Homo sapiens: one gene and its partners. Changing the gene in region 2 together with the main gene of any one other region gives a genetic interaction. Each region holds a gene or a part of one and is shown on either strand. Other genes may lie near its edges.

The links. A genetic interaction does not mean that the proteins touch.
Region 1: changes in SREBF2 (region 2) and ATIC together harm fitness less than expected from each alone (positive genetic interaction), as found in Homo sapiens cells (one large-scale study listed by BioGRID).
Region 3: changes in SREBF2 (region 2) and PIAS1 together harm fitness less than expected from each alone (positive genetic interaction), as found in Homo sapiens cells (one large-scale study listed by BioGRID).
Region 4: changes in SREBF2 (region 2) and KLHL6 together harm fitness less than expected from each alone (positive genetic interaction), as found in Homo sapiens cells (one large-scale study listed by BioGRID).

The regions. Positions count from the first base shown.
Region 1 is NC_000002.12:215,328,074-215,333,039, reverse strand, and holds part of ATIC (bifunctional purine biosynthesis protein ATIC), read right to left. Parts: intron 659-4,966; coding exon 533-658; intron 1-532. UniProt on the Homo sapiens protein: Bifunctional enzyme that catalyzes the last two steps of purine biosynthesis.
Region 2 is NC_000022.11:41,863,598-41,868,563, forward strand, and holds part of SREBF2 (sterol regulatory element-binding protein 2), read left to right. Parts: intron 1-3,233; coding exon 3,234-3,683; intron 3,684-4,966.
Region 3 is NC_000015.10:68,140,330-68,145,295, forward strand, and holds part of PIAS1 (E3 SUMO-protein ligase PIAS1), read left to right. Parts: intron 1-1,616; coding exon 1,617-1,701; intron 1,702-1,960; coding exon 1,961-2,008; intron 2,009-4,966. UniProt on the Homo sapiens protein: Functions as an E3-type small ubiquitin-like modifier (SUMO) ligase, stabilizing the interaction between UBE2I and the substrate, and as a SUMO-tethering factor. Catalyzes sumoylation of various proteins, such as CEBPB, MRE11, MTA1, PTK2 and PML.
Region 4 is NC_000003.12:183,486,570-183,490,691, forward strand, and holds the end of KLHL6 (kelch-like protein 6), read right to left. Parts: 3' UTR 982-4,122; downstream 1-981. UniProt on the Homo sapiens protein: Involved in B-lymphocyte antigen receptor signaling and germinal center formation.

The DNA.
Region 1 (4,966 bases), on a different chromosome or scaffold from region 2:
ACTTTGATATCACACATCATTTATTTCTTCCCCACTCACATCACTTTAACACCCAATAAACACCTGAGAACAAATCATGTGCTGGAGGACTGTCAGCAAGATGTGGTGTACAGACAACTCAATTGCGGAGTTCATGATTTAAACACAGAAGCAAAGTATCTCATACAACGACTATAAGAAGTTTCAGATAAAGAGTCCAAAGAAGAACTTCTTTATGTTTACTCCATTACATTTTCAAAGATGTGGCACAAGACTTAGTCTATTGCATTAGGACATTTCACTTTTATTTTCTAAACTTTTATGGTTCCACCCCACAAACAAATTCCTGCCTCATTTTCCTGACAATATTACACAATTCTGTGTGTGTGTGTGTATCAGATTTTATATTATTACATTGATACTGTTATCAACAGATGACTTTCAGATTTCATAGCATGTCTATATTCACATTAGAACTTGTTAATATTCAAAAAAATTTAAGAAGAAATGCCTTTCGAACAATTCTGGAGCTTTCCAGAGCACAGAGCTTTACCTGCTGGGCTGACATGTTTGAAAGAGGCAGCGGCTGGAATACCTAAAGCCTCCTTGAGTTCCTTCACCAGCTGCCAGGCGTTCAAAGCATCGCACAAGTTTATAAATCCAGGGGCTCCATTTAGAACTAAATGTAAAAATATACATGCACATTACTAAGCAGGATCAGTAAGGTCAGATGTATGCACACTTCTCAAAAAAATAACATGACTAAACAAATGTTTTAAGTATAATTAAGAGCCAAACAGATACACACAAACATAAAATCTTGATGATAAAGAACAAAGCAACTGAGCCTGAGCCCATCTTTAAAAAAAATGCACATGTACATGAACACACACACACACACACACACACACACACACACACACACACACGACTGGAGGACCAGAACCAGCCAGTCTAGAAATAAATCCACAATAAGAGATTTAGGGATGGGAGAAACTATGACAAGACTAGTGATCAGTCAGGAATTCATGTAAATACAGAACTAAGATTAAACAATTGAGGTAATCACAGAGACAGTACAAAATTAAAGTTATAAACCCTATCGATGTAAGAAATTATATTACAAGCTAAAGCAACAGCTGTGGGTGGAAGAAGAGAAGAAATAATGTGTTTTTTCTTTCTTCTTTGATGGCAAACTCAACAGACTCTGCCTAAAGCAGAACTGTAGTTAAAAGGAGACTGCAACTTCAGAGTTTTCCATTACCTAGTTTCTCAACACTGGCAGATTTTTTTAGGAGCTAGTATCTCTTGTGAATAAACATAAGAAGTTCAGCACACAGAAAGAAATGGTGGGCCAGCACTAATTAAAAACAAAAATGAGCCGGGTACAATGGCTCACCCCCATGACCCCAGCACTTTGGGAGGCCGAGGTGGGTGGATCACAAGGTCAGGAGTTCGAGATCAGCCTGGTCAACATGGTGAAACCCCCGTCTCTACTAAAAACACAAAAATTAGCTGGGTGTGGTGGCGGGCGCATGTAATCCCAGCTACTAGGGAGGCTGAGGCAGGAGAATCGCTTGAACCTGGAAGGTGGAGGTTGTAGTGAGCCGAAACCGCGCCACTGCACTCCAGCCTGGCCAACAAGAGCGAGACTCCGTCTCAAAAAAAAAAAAAAAAAACCCAAAAAACAAAAATGTGTAATTTCATGTCCTTCATGGGTTAAGATAGTTTTTAAAGACCTTGCCAAATATTTACTGAGTTGCCTACTACGATGTTAAGCACTGTTCTAGGTATTCAGGATACATCAGTGAAAAAAACCGTCCCTGCAACCCTCTTAAAAAAAAGTCACTGTCCTTATGGAGCTTACTGGGGAGGCAAATAAAAAATAGGCAATAAATAGTATACAATAAAAGAAAATATTAGGTATTTATCAAAATGAGTTGAAAACTTGCACACAAATGATTATAGCAATTTTGTTCATAAACTACCAAAAACTGTCCTTGAAGTTTTGATGCCCTTCAATATGTCCATGGATAAACTGTGGTACATTCATACACAGTGAAATATTATTCAGCATTAAGAAATAAGCTACCAACCCACAAAAAGATGTGGAAGAAACTTAATGCATGTTGTTAACTGAAAGTGCCTAAAAGGGCTCCATACTGTATGATCCCAACTATCTGACATTCTGGAAATGGGTACAGAGTCAGTAAAAACAGCTGGGCATGGTGGTGCATGCCTGTAATCCCAGCTACTTGAGAGGCCAAGGCGGAAGGACTGCTTGAGTCCCAGGATATCAAAACCAGCTCAGACAACATAGCAAGACTCCATTCCAAAAAAAAAAAAAAGAAAAGAGAAAAAGATAACAGTGGTTGCAAAGGGTTGGGGAGAAGGGAAAGGAGGGATGAGGCGGAGGAGCACAAGGGAGTTTTAGGGCATTGAAACTATTCTGCATGATACTGTAATGGGGGAGACATGCCACTGTGCATTTTTCCAAATACACAGAATGTACAACACAAAGAATGAATGTTAAACTATGAACCTTGGTTAATAATGAATCAAAATCGGTTCATCAGTTGTAACAAATACACCACACTAATGCATGATGTTAACAGGAGAAACTGCGGGGAAGCGGGGTATATGGAAATTCCCTATAATCACCGTGTATTTTTTCTGTAAACCTGTAACTACTCTAAAAAAATAAAGCCCGTTTTAAAAAGAACTTGAAAAAATAATTCCCCCAACCAAAAATCAAGTCAAATAAAATCACTGTCCTCATGAAATTTATGCGAGAGGCACAGAAGAAAACAAACTAGGCAATAAATAGTAAACAATAGAAGTAAAATATCCCCTAAGGCATACAACAGGCATAATAAAACAAAACACCATATGTACAACTCCCCCATCTCCCTCCCACTCCTCATAGATGGTTTAGGCTAAGGTTGATAAGTGGGAGAAAACTTTTGGTTTCTGAAACATCTCATAGTTAAGCGTATCTGGATGGGTGCGGTGGCTCATGCCTGTAATCCCCAACACTTTGGGAGGCCAAGGTGGGTGGATCACCTGAGGTTGGGAGTTTCAGACTGGTCTGGCCAATATGGTGAAACTCTGTCTTTACTAAAAATACAAAAATTAGCTGGGCCTGGTGGTACATGCCTGTAATCCCAACTACTCAGGAGGCTGAGGCAGGAGATCACTTGAACCTGGGAGGCGGAGGTTGTGGTGAGCCGAGATCATGCCACTGCACTCCAGCCTGGGCGACAGAGCAAGACTCTGCCTCAAAAAAAAAAGAGTATCCGGTTCCCCTTCAAATATCAAATTTTCAAAGACATTAATAACTGAAATAGAAAGTGCCAGAGAAATGCTGAAAGTTGCTTAATCTAGTAAATAGCTGAAATAAATAGGAATTTTCTTCTTTCCAATCATAAGCAAACCAGTCATTAAAATCTCAGACACATACACACACTCACACAACCCCATCTTTGTTCTTGCTTCAATTTTGTTTTAGATACAATCGCAACCATACACTCTGTAATAACATCACTGCCAAATACTCAAACCACATGAAAAGGCAAAGTGCCTTTTCTATTGTGGAAATAAGCCCATGTTGGGGAGAAATCCTGGGAATCTCGCACAAGAAACGCTTATTTACGTGTCCAGGGCCGCCTCTGCCATGTTTACCACAAATAATACTTTAAACTTCAAAAGAAACGCACACACAGTCTAAGGAACAATGAAGGCTTTTATATAGTCCAATGAAAATGCTTTGGAAAATGAAAAGTATAAGAACTGACAGTACATGGGGATTTTTTTGTCTCAGAATCTTAATGGAGAATATAAACTATAAGCAGGAAATAGGTCAGATATAACAGCAGACAAATCAGTTTCAAGAAGTCCTACAAGGAAAAATTTGTGCAAAATGTCAGGTTGCTAATTATTCATTCAGTAAACATTTAGGGAATGTGCCAAGCAGTCTTCTAAGCCCTGGGGATTCAGCGACAAACAAAAACAGATGCAGCTTCTGCTCTCAAAAGCTGACATCCTGGCTGGGCGCTGTGGCTCATGCCTGTAATCCCAGCACTTTGGGAGGCCGAGGCAGGCAGATCACCTGAGGTCAGGAGTTCAAAACCAGCCTGGCCAACGTGGTGAAACCCTATCTCTACTAAAAATACAAAATTAGCCAGGTGTGGTGGCAGGCGCCTGTAGTCCCAGCTACTTGAGAGGCCGAGGCAGGAGAATCACTTCAACCCGGGAGGTGGAGTTTGCAGCGAGCCAAGATCGCACCACTGCACTCCAGCCTGGGCGAAAAGAGTGAAACTCTATCTCAAAAAAAAAAAAAAAAGGAAGCTGCCATCCTAATGGGGGAAGACAATTTGAACAGATTGAATAGAAACACATGCAGCAAAACAGGGTGATGGGATGAAAGCATGATGGGCTGCTACTTTGGTCTAAGCGGTCAAGGAAGGCTTCTCTGAGGAGGTGAGGCCTGAATAACAAGAAACCAGGACGGTGAAGGGCAGAGGGAAGAATTCTGGGTGAAGGGGACAAGGAGCCAGAGGCGCTGGAGTGGAAAGAGCTGGGCCCACTTGGAGGCACAGGGCGGAGGGGCTAGCAGCAGGCGCAGGGAGAGCTGCTGAGGGGGCAGATAGGAGGCAGGCAGGCAGCACAGGGTTTGTGGGGCAGGGCAAAGTGCTTAAGAAAAGCCAAGGAATGGCTTTAAGTAGGGTCTGACATCATCCGATTTCCATTTTTAAAAGATTACTGTGCTGTGAAGCCCAGAAAGGCCGAGAGAAAACAAATTACTTAGATTACTTCAGCCTACAGGACTTCACAGGGTGTCTGTGGGGATTTGGGAAGTGTTAGTGTCAAAGTGTATCTGAGATCTGAGGCCAGGTGTGGTGGCTCACGCCTGTAATCCCAGCACTCTGGGAGGCTGAGATAGGCAGATAACTTGAGGTCAGGAGTTTGAGACCAGCCTGGCCAACAT
Region 2 (4,966 bases):
CGGAATTGGAATTGGTTAGTACAAGCTGCAATATCTGTAGCAATCTGCCCATTTCTCCCTCGCACAAGGCTGAGTGAGGACAGAGCTTAGTGTCAAGATGTTGGTAAATAATACCACTATGTAGGAATGTAGTCTGGTGAGATGCTGTTTTTCCCAGCAGGTTTAACTGACTGAATACTTAAGGTGCCCAGATTGAAATGCAAAGCTCCAGTTATCCCATATGGAGACTACACTAGAAAGCCCCAGCAGCTTTATTTATTTACATTTATTTATTTATCTATCTATTTATTTATTTATTTTTTGGGACGGAGTCTTGCTCTGTTCCCTAGGCTGGAGTACAGTGACGCAGTCATCTCGGCTTACTGCAACCTCTGCCTCCTGGGTTCAAGCGATTCTCCTGCCTCAGCCTCCCGAGTAGCTGGGATTACAGGCACCCACCACCATGCCTGGCTAATTTTTGTAGTAGACAGGGGTTTTCACCATGTTTGTCAGGCTGGTCTCGAACTCCTGACTTCAGGTGATCCACCTGCCTTGGCCTCCCAAAGTGCTGGGATTACAAGCATAAGCCACCACCCCTGGCCTATTTACATTTAATTATGATTTATTTTTCCTATCCTTCTGCAAGCATATATATATATATATATATATATATATATATATATATACACACACACACACACACACACAAAATATCAAAATATATATATATATGTATATATATATATATTTTTTTTTTTTTTTGAGACTGAGTCTCGCTCTGTTGCCCAGGCTGGAGTGCAGTGGCACGATCTCTGCTCACTGCAAGCTCTGCCTCCCGGGTTCACTCCATTCTCCTGACTCAGCCTCCCGAGTAGCTTGGACTACAGGCGCCCACCACCACGCCCAGCTAATTTTTTGTATTTTTAGTAGAGACGGGGTTTCACCGTGTTAGCCAGGATGGTCTCGATCTCCTGACCTTGTGATCCGCACGCCTTGGCCTCCCAAAGTGCTGGGATTATAGGCGTGAGTCACCGCGCCCGGCCCAAAAAATCTTTGTGTTTTTTTGTTTGTTTGTTTTGTGTTCAGAGAAGGGATCTGGCTAGGTGCCCTGGCTCATGCCTGTAGTCCCAGCACTTTGGGAGGCCAAACCGAGAGGTTGCTTTTCAGGAGTTTGAGACCAGCCTGGGCAACATGGTGAAATCTCGTCTCTACAGAAAATACAAAAATTAGCCGGGCATGGTTGGCGCACACCTGTGGTCCCAGCTACTCAGGAGGCTGATGTGGAAGGATCGCTTGAGCCTGGGAGGTGGAGGCTGCAGTGAGCTGAAATTGCAACACTGCACTCCAACCTGGGTGACAGAGCAATACCCTATCTCAAAAAAAAGAGAGACAGAGTCTCGCTGTGTTGCCCAGGCTGTTCTCAAACTCCTGACCTCAAGTGACCCTCCCACCTTGGCCTCACAATGCACTGGGATTACAGGCATGAGCCACCACAACCGGTCTCAGCAGCTTTCTGTTTGTCAGATATACAAATATACCCCAGGCTCCAGGCCCCCACATCCCCCAAAAAACACACACACACACACACACACAGCATCAGAGACCTGAGAAGGACATCTTGGTGGAGGTTTGGGGGAATGGAGATGGTTCCTTTTATTTTTTTATAGTGGTGGTGTGGTGGTTTTTGTTGTTTTGGTGTCTAAATCAGAGCATCACATGGCCTTGAAGGTTTGGAAAGGAGGGGCCATAGTTCAAGAACAAGCAGTAGCTTCTTGGGAACGTATTGGAGAGAGAAAAGAGAAAAGAATATGGACAATGTAGAGAATTGTAGGTCTGAAACTATCTGGGACAAAGCTGAGGCTCCTGACTTCTATAGGGACCAGTCATATGAAAAAGAAGGGAGTCGTGAGAGATGATGGGGTAGTTGTGGGTTAAGTTGGGTTTTGGAAAGCCTTTGGGAAGATTGACCAGGGAAGAGGCCCTGGAAGTAGGCTTGAGACCCTTTGGGCTGGGAATTTAAGGGTCCCAGCTACTTGGAACATGATCTAGAAAGGGAAGCGAGGTCTCCAGGTGGACAAATCCCTTTGGACCCAAGACTCCTTGCCCAGAGAAAAGGGGCACAACCAGACAAGGGCTAGCATGGGCCCTGGGAAGCACGGAGTTCAGGGTGGGGCAGGCTTGCTGTGTCCTGGCCTGGCAACATACCTGCACTGTGTTGTGGTAGAAGAACACAAAGCTGGGAGGCAGAGAACTGGTTCTAATCCTAGCTGTACCCTGACAAGCTGTGTGACCTTGGCCAAGTTACTTTCCTCTCCTGGACTTCATATATGGTTTTTCCATTCTTTGCATCCCTGAAGCTCCATGACTTAGGGGCCATCAACTTGGTTGTCCCTGAGTGTTTCCAAGAATACCAACAGTGCCCAGGGTTTTACTCAGCTTGGAGAGGAGGCCTAGAGCCTCCCTGTGGTGAGGAGGAAAGAGGTTAGAGCAAGTTTGGGTCTGCAGTGCTAGGATTAGAGGTGGCCTCACAAGCCAAAACCGCTATACTCACAGCCTTAGGACAGTGACTCCCTACTCGCTGCCTCAGTGTTTCCAGCTGTAAAAAAGGACCCTTGGTACCTTCGACAGAACAGCACCCATCTAGTACAAAGGTAGTTCCTTTTATGATCAAAACAATCAGGAAAAAGAGAGAGGCTGGGTGCGGTGGCTCACACCTGTAATCCCAGCACTTTGGGAGGCTGAGGTGGGTGGATCACCTAAGGTCAGGAGTTCGAGACCCACCTATCAATATGGTGAAACCCTGTCTCTACTAAAATTACAAAAATTAGCCGGGCATGGTGCCGTGCACCTATAGTCCCAGCTACTCAGGAGGCTGAGGCGGGAGAATCGCTTGAACCCAGGAGGCAGAGGTTGAAGTAAGACAAGTTCGCGCCACTGCACTCCATCCAGCGTGGGCGATAGAGGAAGACTCCGTCTCAAAAAGAAAAAAGAAAGAAAATGAGAGAAAGGGCCTGGAGGTGAGTGTGAGGAGGGAAAAGAACATCAAACAGATAAAGTCCTGTCCTGTTGTCCTGGGACCTTGGGCAGCCATCTTGGCCCAGATGATCCCCACAAGAAAGAGGTAAGGGTTTCCTGACCCATTTCTGCCATGGTCTTAGGAAAGTCATTGAGTTTTCATGCCTTAGTTTCTTAAGCAAGTTTGAAAGTTCACTTTTTGGATAGCAATAAAATTACTCCTTTTCTTTTGTTCACAGAGATGCTGCAATTTGTCAGTAATCAAGTGGGAGAGTTCCCTGACTTGTTTTCAGAACAGCTGTGTAGCTCCTTTCCTGGCAGTGGTGGTAGTGGTAGCAGCAGCGGCAGCAGTGGCAGCAGCAGCAGCAGCAGCAATGGCAGGGGCAGCAGCAGCGGAGCTGTGGACCCTTCAGTGCAACGGTCATTCACCCAGGTCACATTACCTTCCTTCTCTCCCTCGGCGGCCTCCCCACAGGCTCCAACTCTGCAAGTCAAGGTTTCTCCCACCTCAGTTCCCACCACACCCAGGGCAACTCCTATTCTTCAGCCCCGCCCCCAGCCCCAGCCTCAACCTCAAACTCAGCTGCAACAACAGACGGTAATGATCACGCCAACATTCAGCACCACTCCGCAGACGAGGATCATCCAGCAGCCTTTGATATACCAGAATGCAGCTACTAGCTTTCAAGGTGATTCAGAAGTTAGAATGGTAGTGGTTGGTTGGTTCCAATGTTTATGTGCCAGTTTGCAGACACTGTAAATATTTCTGTCGTCTTCAGGAATGGCAGGTATATCAATATGGTCCTGTCTGAATGAGGTTCTGGTAACTGGCAATAAGAACTGGTACAGGAGCATGTCACATTCTGCAGCTTCAAATACCTTAATATCTATTGCGCCTAATTCAAAAATACTTGGTTAAAAAATCCAGCAAGCGGCCGGGCGCGGTGGCTCACGCCTGTAATCCCAGCACTTTGGGAGGCCAAGGCGGGCGGATCACGAGGTCAGGAGATTGAGACCATCCTGGCTAACTCAGTGAAACCCCATCTCTACTAAAAAATAGAAAAAATTAGCCGGGCATGGTGGCGGGCGCCTGTAGTCCCAGCTACTCGGGAGGCTGAGGCAGGAGAATGGCGTGAACCCGGGAGGCAGAGCTTGCAGTGAGCAGAGATCGTGCCACTGCACTCCAGCCTAGGCAACAGAGCGAGACTCCCATCTTAAAAAGAAAAAAAAAAATCCAGCAAGCATAGTAGACACAGGGCCATTCTGATAACTAGTGGTGGAGACTTGAATAAGGCTTGAAATTGGCTAGGCGGCAGCCAGATCTCAGCTGCCACAGTTGAGAACTATTCATTCAGCAAACATCTGAGCATCCACTATGGTGATGAATATGACTTTTAATATAGGTGCAGCAGCTTCAAGTAGCAAGCCTCATGCTGGGCCCTTAGTATGTGTTGAGGGAATGGATGACTGAAAGGGGCCTGTTCTTTCTGTGATGTGCTGCATCCCAGTGCCTTTTCATCATATTTCCCTCTGACTCTGTGGGGAGCCCAGGGTAAGATTAGTATTGCTTTGAATTTCAAAGAATCTTATAGTTCTTCAATGGAGTTCAAGAATTGGGACAGGTGGGGGAATGTAAAGGCAAAAAGCTGAGACAGTCCTCCCAAAGTGCACTTGCCGTCCAGAAAGGATGGAAGAAAATGAAGCCCCAGGGAGTTGTTGATTCTCAACATCTGTTAACTCCCTTGCTGGGTGCAGTCATTTGCTGATTAGCTTCCCTTTCCCCCACCCTGGCACCCAGAGTAATAAAACAATTTGTACTCGTTCCCTCAGAAATTGATGCAGCCCTTATGGGATGTTCTTGTTGTCTAAGCCACCTTGTAAATGGCTGTGCACATCATCTTCAGCAGTAGGTGGGGAGTTGGAATCATTATGAGATACTCCATCCTCAGGTTTCTGCTGCAGCTGCAGTGAC
Region 3 (4,966 bases), on a different chromosome or scaffold from region 2:
GATTTAAATTAGGCTAAGTCTACTGGACTAAAATCTTGATAGAGATACATCCTCTAAGAAGCAAAGAAGTTAGTTACTTGCATTGCCTGACAGAGGGAAATGTTAGCTGGTTTTCTACATTCTGGGCCTTAGTTATTGGCATTGCCAGGTTGATGTTTCACAATTAAGACAACTTTTTCTGTTAGTGACTGCTCCTTGGTGATAGATTCTTTAAGAAAAAGCCATCCTAGAACACATAAAGCAGAAAGCAAACCTAGCCTTTTAAAGATACTGTTAATGTTGAGATAGAATTCTAGATCAACAAGTGCTCTTTTCTATTTCTTTCTCTTAATGATACGTTTGGTATCGACTTTTTGCGTGACATATTGCAGTTTGGTTGGAAGTTGTAAAGGAAGTGTTTCTTGCAAGTATGATCAAACTCAGTTTAAGCAAGAGATTGAAACAGCCAACTTCAGCTGCTTATTCAGCACAGGCCTTAAGTGCCCCAGAAGCCGATAGTTTCTTAATAATAACTCTTAGTGATCATTTTCTTCTAGAAAATTACCCTGGAAAAGTAGTATAAATAGTTTAATCTGCTATTTCTTAAAATTTTGTATTCCTTTACTCATTCAACAAATAAATAGTATTCAGTGCTTCTTTGTGCCAAGCACTGAGGGCTCATTAGTGAGCAAAAGGGATATTAACCACTGTTTTAAAAAAAAAATGTATCTAACATGTACTAAAAGCCAATGGATGTGGTGATGCATGCCTATAGTCCTACCTACTTAGAAGGGTGAGGCAGGAGGATCACTTTGAGCCCAGGGGTTTGAGTTTGTGCTATAATGGTGCCACTGTACTCCAGCCTGGGCAACAGAGCAAGACCCTGTCTCTTAAAAAAGCAAACAAAAAGCCTTTAATGGAACTATTGTTGCTCATAACGGCATACTTTAGAACCCCTGGTCTAGTCTGACTGTGCTTACCTACCTGCTTGCATGCGTTTCTCTTTCTTCCCACCTCTCTTCCCCTCCCTTCCTTCCTTTCTTAATTCTCTTCTGTTTTTTACAACTCTTTTCCTTCTTTGAGTTAGTGACAATAAGCAAATTTTGAACTCATCTAAGATTAGGAGAAAAACTGTATGTGATATTTATTGTATAAAACTTGCATGGTAGAGTTAAACAGGAGATGATAAAATTCTTAATTTACTTTATAAACCAAATGTCATCTCACCTGTCTAGCTCTCAAGGTGGGTATGTTTGTTACTTCTTCCAGAAACCATGTCTCTTTAAATGGGTTTATATCATTCTATTTTAAATAAAATTCGTATGTTTTTATACAAGTGTGCTCTTTAGATGCAAACATTTATATGATTAGATAAATTTTCCTTAGTCTTTCTTTGATTATGTATTGTCTGAATTTGAATCCTGATGTGTTATTCTGGAATTAGCCATTTTTGTTTCTATTTCTGTTTGTTATGTTACAATTAGTGTATTTCTTATTTTTCAGTGCTTTAATTGCCTTGTTATCTAAACTCTAGAATATATACCAGTTAATTAAAGACATGTGTGTTTTTTTTTTTTGCTTTTGTCTTTACTGGCGAATTTAAAGGTAATTGAAAGTATAATTCTTGTCTTCTTTAGCATCAGACAACAGTCAGCGCTTTCGAGAAACCTGTTTTGCATTTGCCTTGACACCACAACAAGTGCAGCAAATCAGTAGTTCCATGTAAGTTGTCGTCAAGTGTAACTTGAAGTTTGACCTTTGAATCCAGTAGTCTATAATAAATGATTTTAAAAAACAGTGATTGGTGAGTTAGTATTTGTGTGATGCAAATATTAGTAATGAAAGTATAGTGTGTTAGTTACTGTAAGAACAGTTATATTTATGATAATTTGAAAAACTTTTCTGGAGTAACAAGGTCTTTGAATGAACTTTCATGCAAATACTTTAAAAGTAATTGTAATTCCTATTCTGTCTCTTCTAGGGATATTTCTGGGACCAAATGTGACTTCACAGTACAGGTCCAGTTAAGGTACAGTGCTGACTATAGGATATATTCAAAGTTTAAAAGATAATATTCCTTTTCACAGTACGGGTCCAGTTAAGGTACAGTGCTGACTGTAGGATATATTCAAAGTTTAAAAGATAATATTCCTTATCAGGAAGGGGAAATGGAAAAAAAATTTTAAGGAATAAGAGGAAATCTACCTGATTTTTCAATAAGTGTATTGAAAATATTAGGTTTAGATATTTGGGTGAGGGAAAACATTCTCCTGTTATGAGATATTCTAATTTTCATCCAATTTAGATTTTTCCCCTGCCCGCCCACCCCCCAGTTTAGATTTCAATATAGCAAGTCATGTTCTATATATCTAACCATATTTGATTGCCCTCAGTTGGTTGAGAAGCTCCAGCTAATGATATCTTACAATATCATATCAAGTTTTATGAAAGCATGGGCCTTATCTCCATAAGAGGCAAAGTACTGTGGATAAGGAATTAGTACTTAAGTCTACAGTATGTCATGGACTAACAAACATCAAAATATTCTAATTTGTTTTGTTCTGTATTTTAAATAATTTAAATATGCTCTAATTTAGGATCCATTTGAGACATCTCTTAAAAATGTTCAAAGACTAATGGGAAATTTTCCAACATGGATTCACAACCCCTTATTGAGTTTCTTTTCTTAGCCCATTCATTTGTCTTAGAATATCTAAGAAATATTTTGTATTATTTCTCTCCCTTATATATCTCCCTTTTATATACATATATATATATATCTCCCTTATATAAACCATCATATTATGCTTTATTATTCGATTTACCAACTTAAATGTCCACACTGTTGGAATAGGGATGGAAGAGAAAATATAAGACAGTTGTTTTCCTCAGTAAGCTGTTTTCCCTATAATTGTCAGGAGGATAAATCAAACAGTTAGCCTTGTCTCAATAATCAGATACTAAGTTGTATGTACAAGTTACAAATACACTAGGAGGCTAAAAAAGGGATTAATCTAAAACGCCTGTTCAGCACTTCATGGAACCATGTGAAAACCTCTCATCTAAGCTTTGAAATAATAAGGTAAAAACAGTGAGAAAGCAGAGTTGAAGTCGAAAGTTGAGTTGAAGATTCTAAAGAGGATATGACTATACTTAATAACTTTTATACCATAAAACAGTATGACAGGACCTTACTGCAGTAGACTAGTGATAATCTAAGTTTCAGTTTTGGAAGGCACTGCTAAAGATGATTCTGTATAAAAGGTATATTTTATGTCGGCCAGATTGTGATAATGACTGAAGAAATTAAAGGACAAAAATAAGATGTCTCCATAGTTAATTATGTATTGCTGTAGTCTTCTTTACTTCCTGCCTCAACAGTTTACATTTTGCTTGTGCTGATACTTGACATTATCCTTTAAATCAGTGGTTTTCAAACTTGTTGCATGGAGCCACCCTTAGGGGTTCATACTCTTCTGCCATCCTCCTCTTCTCTCCTAAACACATACACAGTCTGAACCAAAGTGGGGCTTCTTTTATCTCTTTTATCTGTTTTGCATGTTTGACTCTGGGTTAATTTTTGCTTAAAGACAGGGTCCCAAGACTAAAATAAAGTTTAAAAACCGTAGCTTTAGAATAAAAGATCTAGTTACTAAGTATTTTGTATTAATATACATACATTCTTTAAAGCAGCAACAGGTGTGGTCCACATTTTGAAGTAAGGTTGTCTAGATAGATGAGCTATAATTCAGAGATTCCAAGGGTATCTTGATGACTGCTATTTTAATTGAAATGTATCTCCAGGACTTGGAAAAAAAAAAAAAAAAAGAACCATGTTGTGTTATATTTGGTAATTGTTAGGTGGTTCTTTGTGTTTTAATAAAACAGTTCATCTCTCTCCCTGCCCCACGTTGCTAGGTCTGCAACCATAGTGTATTATTTAAGTTAGGAGTGTATGCCTATCTGCTATCCTAATTAGAAATGTTTATCTAAAGCATAAAAATAATTAGTTGAGAATTAGGATCCAAGTTTTCTTTATTAGACACCTAGTCTGTTTTCATTTATGTTGTGCCTCCCTGCTCCACTCCCTCCTCTCTGCCCCATGAACCACTTCACAGAAACTTTCTGCTATTCCTTTTTTTCTTTTTTCTCTTCAGTTCATTAGGGTGATTTAGATTAGTTGAATAGACACTGTCTTGTCATTTAAATTACTCTTTTCCTATAGGAAAGGGTTCAGGCAGCCAGGGTCCATGTTTTAAATTGATCACTGCATTGGAATAATTATTTAAAAACTGTGACATCCTTTTAACTATTGCAGCCTAAAGAATTAGCCTGTAATGGAAGGTTCTGCTGGGGTTAGGAGTGGTCCTGTGAGCTTTGACATCTGTTTGCTAAGTATATTTCTAGAAAATCTTTGTAGATCAGTAAATCTTAACTTTTTTATGGATCCCTGATCCCTTTGAGAATTTGATAGAAGCTGTGAATGGTTTCCCTATAAAACTGAACATGTATATGTACTCAAAATAATTTACATATAAAATTGTTTTATATTGTGCACGATCCCCGTACTCAGATTTCATGGCCAGCAGGTTAAGACCCCATACCGCAGGTGTTGAGAGGAGTTGTTGGCACATGAGGAATATTTCACAGATTTCGGAGATAGGGTTCTCCCTACTATGTAACTCAGGGGTGCTATTAGCATTCTATAACAGTGCAATGAGCCTTAGGTGTATATTGAGAATAGGTACTAATAAAGAATAAATGCCTTAAATAGCAAAATAGTAATAAGAGTGAATAGACTGAGAATTTATGAATTATGTATCTTTCCTTGATTTTTCCAAAAGACTGCATTTAATTTAGAAATATTTTTATAAGTTTCTAAAATAGTATTCTAAATTTATGTGGCTATAACACAAATAATATTCAATATCTTCAGTTCTCAAAAAATAAGGAGTACTTTGGCTTACTGATCCTGGGGATGGACTTA
Region 4 (4,122 bases), on a different chromosome or scaffold from region 2:
GCAGGAACGGAACATAAGGCATGGGCCTATGGAGGGCGGGAGAGAACTGAGATCCTGTATGAAGGCTGCACGTCCAGTGAAAAGGAGCTGGTCCAGAAGATGCCATACACCAGCAGGGAGGAGCTGGTGCAGGGGGAGGCACTAAGAAAAGCTGGGCAGATGCCTGGCCCCGGCCAAACTGCCCAGACATGAGATTATCACTTAGACCCAGCGGGGAAATTGGAAGGCTCAGCAGCAAAGTTAAGGTCAAAACTCCGTTTGACTCACAGCTGGTGCACTGGCACTCAGATCCAGGGCCCAAGATCACTCCAGAACATTCCCCACCAGTGAGGAAGCTGGGTCTGTGATTCCCAAGGGTTTCCACCAAGAAGTCCTAAGGCAGAACATCTACCTCTGGGGATGCCCAGAGGGGAAGGTCTGAAGCTATTCATGGAACCCCAGATTTCTTTAAAGCCTCTGATTTTCCTTTTCAAATACACAGGAGTCTTGCATTGTAACCAAAACAAACTAAATTGATAACAAGGTTTCCAGTGATTAAAGGGAAGTCTCATACCCCAAGTTACACGTGCCCCAATTTGAGAAGCACAGACCAGGGAGGGCTTCAGAGACAACACAGGAACAATGGTGGACGCAGGCTAAAAGGTCAGACCTGTAATCAAAAACCTAGAAGGGGGTCTCCTGTAAGAAGAGCTGAGGCCAGGCAAGAGAAGAGTCACGCAGTTTGCATATGGGTTGGTAAAAGCTTGCTCAGCGAGGCAATGCATCTTTAGGGAGGGAAAATCTGTCTACTCTTTGACATTCTATAAATCAAACCTGGTGAATTTTAACCTATGAACTTATCTAAAGTCCCATGAACCAAATGAAACGTTTTAAATTTCCACCTTCTAAATTAATTTCTATTCAGACACCACTCATTTATATAAACTAAAAACAGCAAAAAAAAAAAAAAAAAACTTCATGATTGTATATAACACATTTGCATCTGTTCTGTGCATATTTTATTGAATAAATAAAAATTTTATTGGTTTGGTTTTTAAAACCTATAAACAATATTCTTAGTTTGATCACTTAAAACATACAACTTTATGTAACCAAAATGCTTAAAGGATTTTGTTCACTGAGTGTTGGCTATTTATACCTATACATATGAAAATCTGACCTGTCAAAACTGGTTTTGCAGTAGCCAGATTTGAGATATATGTGGATTTCTAAAAGGTTAACTTGTCAAATTATGAGATCTAATACAACACCCAGGTATTAAGGGAAAAAATGATTTTGCAACCCCAAGTTGGGACTTAACATAAGAAATCCTTATGGTGTTGCCAACGTTAAAAATTCTATTGAGCACTTTCATTTTTCAGAATAAAACAGGATAAGCAAATAACTCACAACAGTACCTCATAGTCTTCTATAAATAGCTAAGCTATACTTTACAGCTATAAGAACGTGATATTTGTATTTCCCTGAGAGCGTAGTTTGCTTTGAGTTCAAGGGCATGGTGTATGTGTATATGTGTGTTTCCCGAAGCCATTGAGACCAGAATAGATGAAAGCTAAGACGAGAACATGAATCTGTTGGTGTTCTGATGAGCTTAGCTCCCTGCCTGTTTCAGATCAACCTTGGCAACTGGAGTCCCTTAACCTCATCTACAGATTCCGCTCCACCAAAGACTCTGGGCCACCTTCCCTCTAGGACAGGAGACCCAGCTGAGCAGCTCAGAGGCCCCACAGTAAGTTGGCCCAAATGCTGGGCCTGCTCTAACTTGTGCCTCTGCTCTAAGAAGGGGATTCCTTCCTTAGTTCCTTGCCTAGAATACTCCCTTACCCTTATTCTCCCTCACCCTTCTTGGGACTAGAGCCAAGCTCACAAACTCCAGGGCCTCCGATATCATTTTCCAGACCTGCATCCTTGGAACCTGACCTCCTCCTACCCCATCTTCTTCTTCCCAGCCAGGGGTGCTCTGTCCACTCACAGGCCCTGCCTCAGTCTCCAGTCTGCTGTGCCAGAACATCCTGCCATGTCCTGCCTGAGTCCGAGGGTTCTTTGTCTCTGGGTTTATTCTCAGCTTGGCTTTCCCCCTGCTGATGGTGTGGGTTATAACAGTTACCTTCCTGCAAATGTGTTCGTCTTTATTTCTTGAAATGGATTTTAGATTTTAGAAGTTCTCATCCTTGGCTGGTGCCTAGAAGCTAAAACCCTGATGACTATTCTTAAGTTTCCCCCAAATGACTTGAACTTTCTTTCTCGAAGAGCTACAGACTGGCAGCTTCATATACAGAACCCTAGACCTTCTAACCAGGTGTATCTGTTCCCTACCCATGCCATTATTAGGAATCCCTATTTCTTGAGTGTCAGCTACATGACATTTTCCACAATTCACCTGCATATCTGGTGTTGTAAAAAATCATAAAGAGTGTTTCCATGATTCATTTAGGTATTCTGAAGTAGTCCAGAAACTTGGGTCCTACATTTAGAATCAGGTTTATAGCACAGAAATCCCAAATCCTCACTTTCCCAGCATAGGGTTGACCTGCTGATGGGCTCGAAGTTTGCCTATGGGTCTTATCAAAGGACCGCCATCCCCTCCCTGACTAGGGGCGCTGTCTTTTTGAAGGGAGGCTCCCTGTGTATGCCAGTACCATTGTCATTGGATTTCCTCTCTGGAAGTTCCTCCCTGCAATAGTCTTTGGAGTAAGACTGACTTTTCCTTCACAAATCAGTTCACAAATGGTTCTGGTGGCGATCTCAAAGAGACAAACATGTAAGCCATGGCCACTGGTTGACTTCACTGCACAGCTTACCACCTTGACCCCCTGAAAGGCAATCAAGACTTGGATCCAGCCTCCTCACTTCATACGCATCTCATTTTTAGCTAACTTGAAGAAAATAAAAACAAGAATATTAACTGGTGGCCTATTTACCTGTATTGAGTGTCTAGCGTGGAGATTTGCCATTCGTGGGTGTCCTCAAGGCTTGACAGACATGAAGAACTCCATGAATGTTTGCTGAATTGAACTAGATTACACTGTTACATTGCTTCAGTTGGGAGCTTCCTGATGGTTATTATAGTGCTCATGAGTCAGCAATAGTTTGTTCTAAAATTCCACAAATATGTTTCTATTGCCCTGTGTTACTTTCCACAGCAGAGAGCTGAACTGTCACGCTTCTAAGGCACAGAGCATTTCACACACCAACATACATTTATATTTATCTTCAATAATCTGGCATAAACAGAAATCTCACCTGTAATTTTTCAAGTTTTTAAAATCTGTTTCAAATATTAGCTTCTTCTAACCGTGACTGTTTAATGAAAATTCAATTCACTATCAACTCTAATAACTAACTTCCCAAACTGCTGAAAAGAACAAGCCACACCGGATATGAAATAAAACTCTATAAAGAGAATTGAAATCATATGATGAAAATAAAGTCCATTGGGTAACGCAGTTACTATGTTGTTATCATTGTTGCTTTTTAAATACAGCATATGAAACAGGATCTCTTAACCTGTTTCTCCAGCTTGGGGATTAGAATGAATTTCCAGTGAGCTCATTTGAAAGCTGTAGCTCTTACAGTGAAGGACAGATTCTGTTCTTTAAGTCACAATTGAGCTACACTGATCAAAAAACCAAGTAGAAGTGCTTTTTAAAAGTCTTGAAAACGAAGGCTTCAGGAGGATGGGGTATCAGGAACGTGGACCTAAATCACTGTGTAAAAACTAGAAAGTGTACCATCAAGGAGAATCTGTCGCTCCTGTGTAGGCCAGCTGTGCTCAGGTGTTTACTTTTTTAATAAAACAGTAGTTTGAGTCTCTAGAGACATCTTGTCTATATTGCAGTACAACTGGTGAACACTAAGAGGCCAGGGCACCAGAATGTGCTAAAGGTACAATTCTGTCTGGCAATGACAGTTCCGGTCCAAAATGGGCCATCTTATGATCATTTAAAAAAAAAAAGACCGGGCCCAGTGGCTCACACCTGTAATCCCAGCACTTCGGGAGGCCGAGGCGGGCAGATCACAAGGTCAGGCGTTCAAGACCAGCCTGGCCAAGATGGTGAAACCCCGTCTCTACTAAAACTACAAAAATTAGCCAGGCGCGGTGGCAGGTGCCTGTAATCCCAG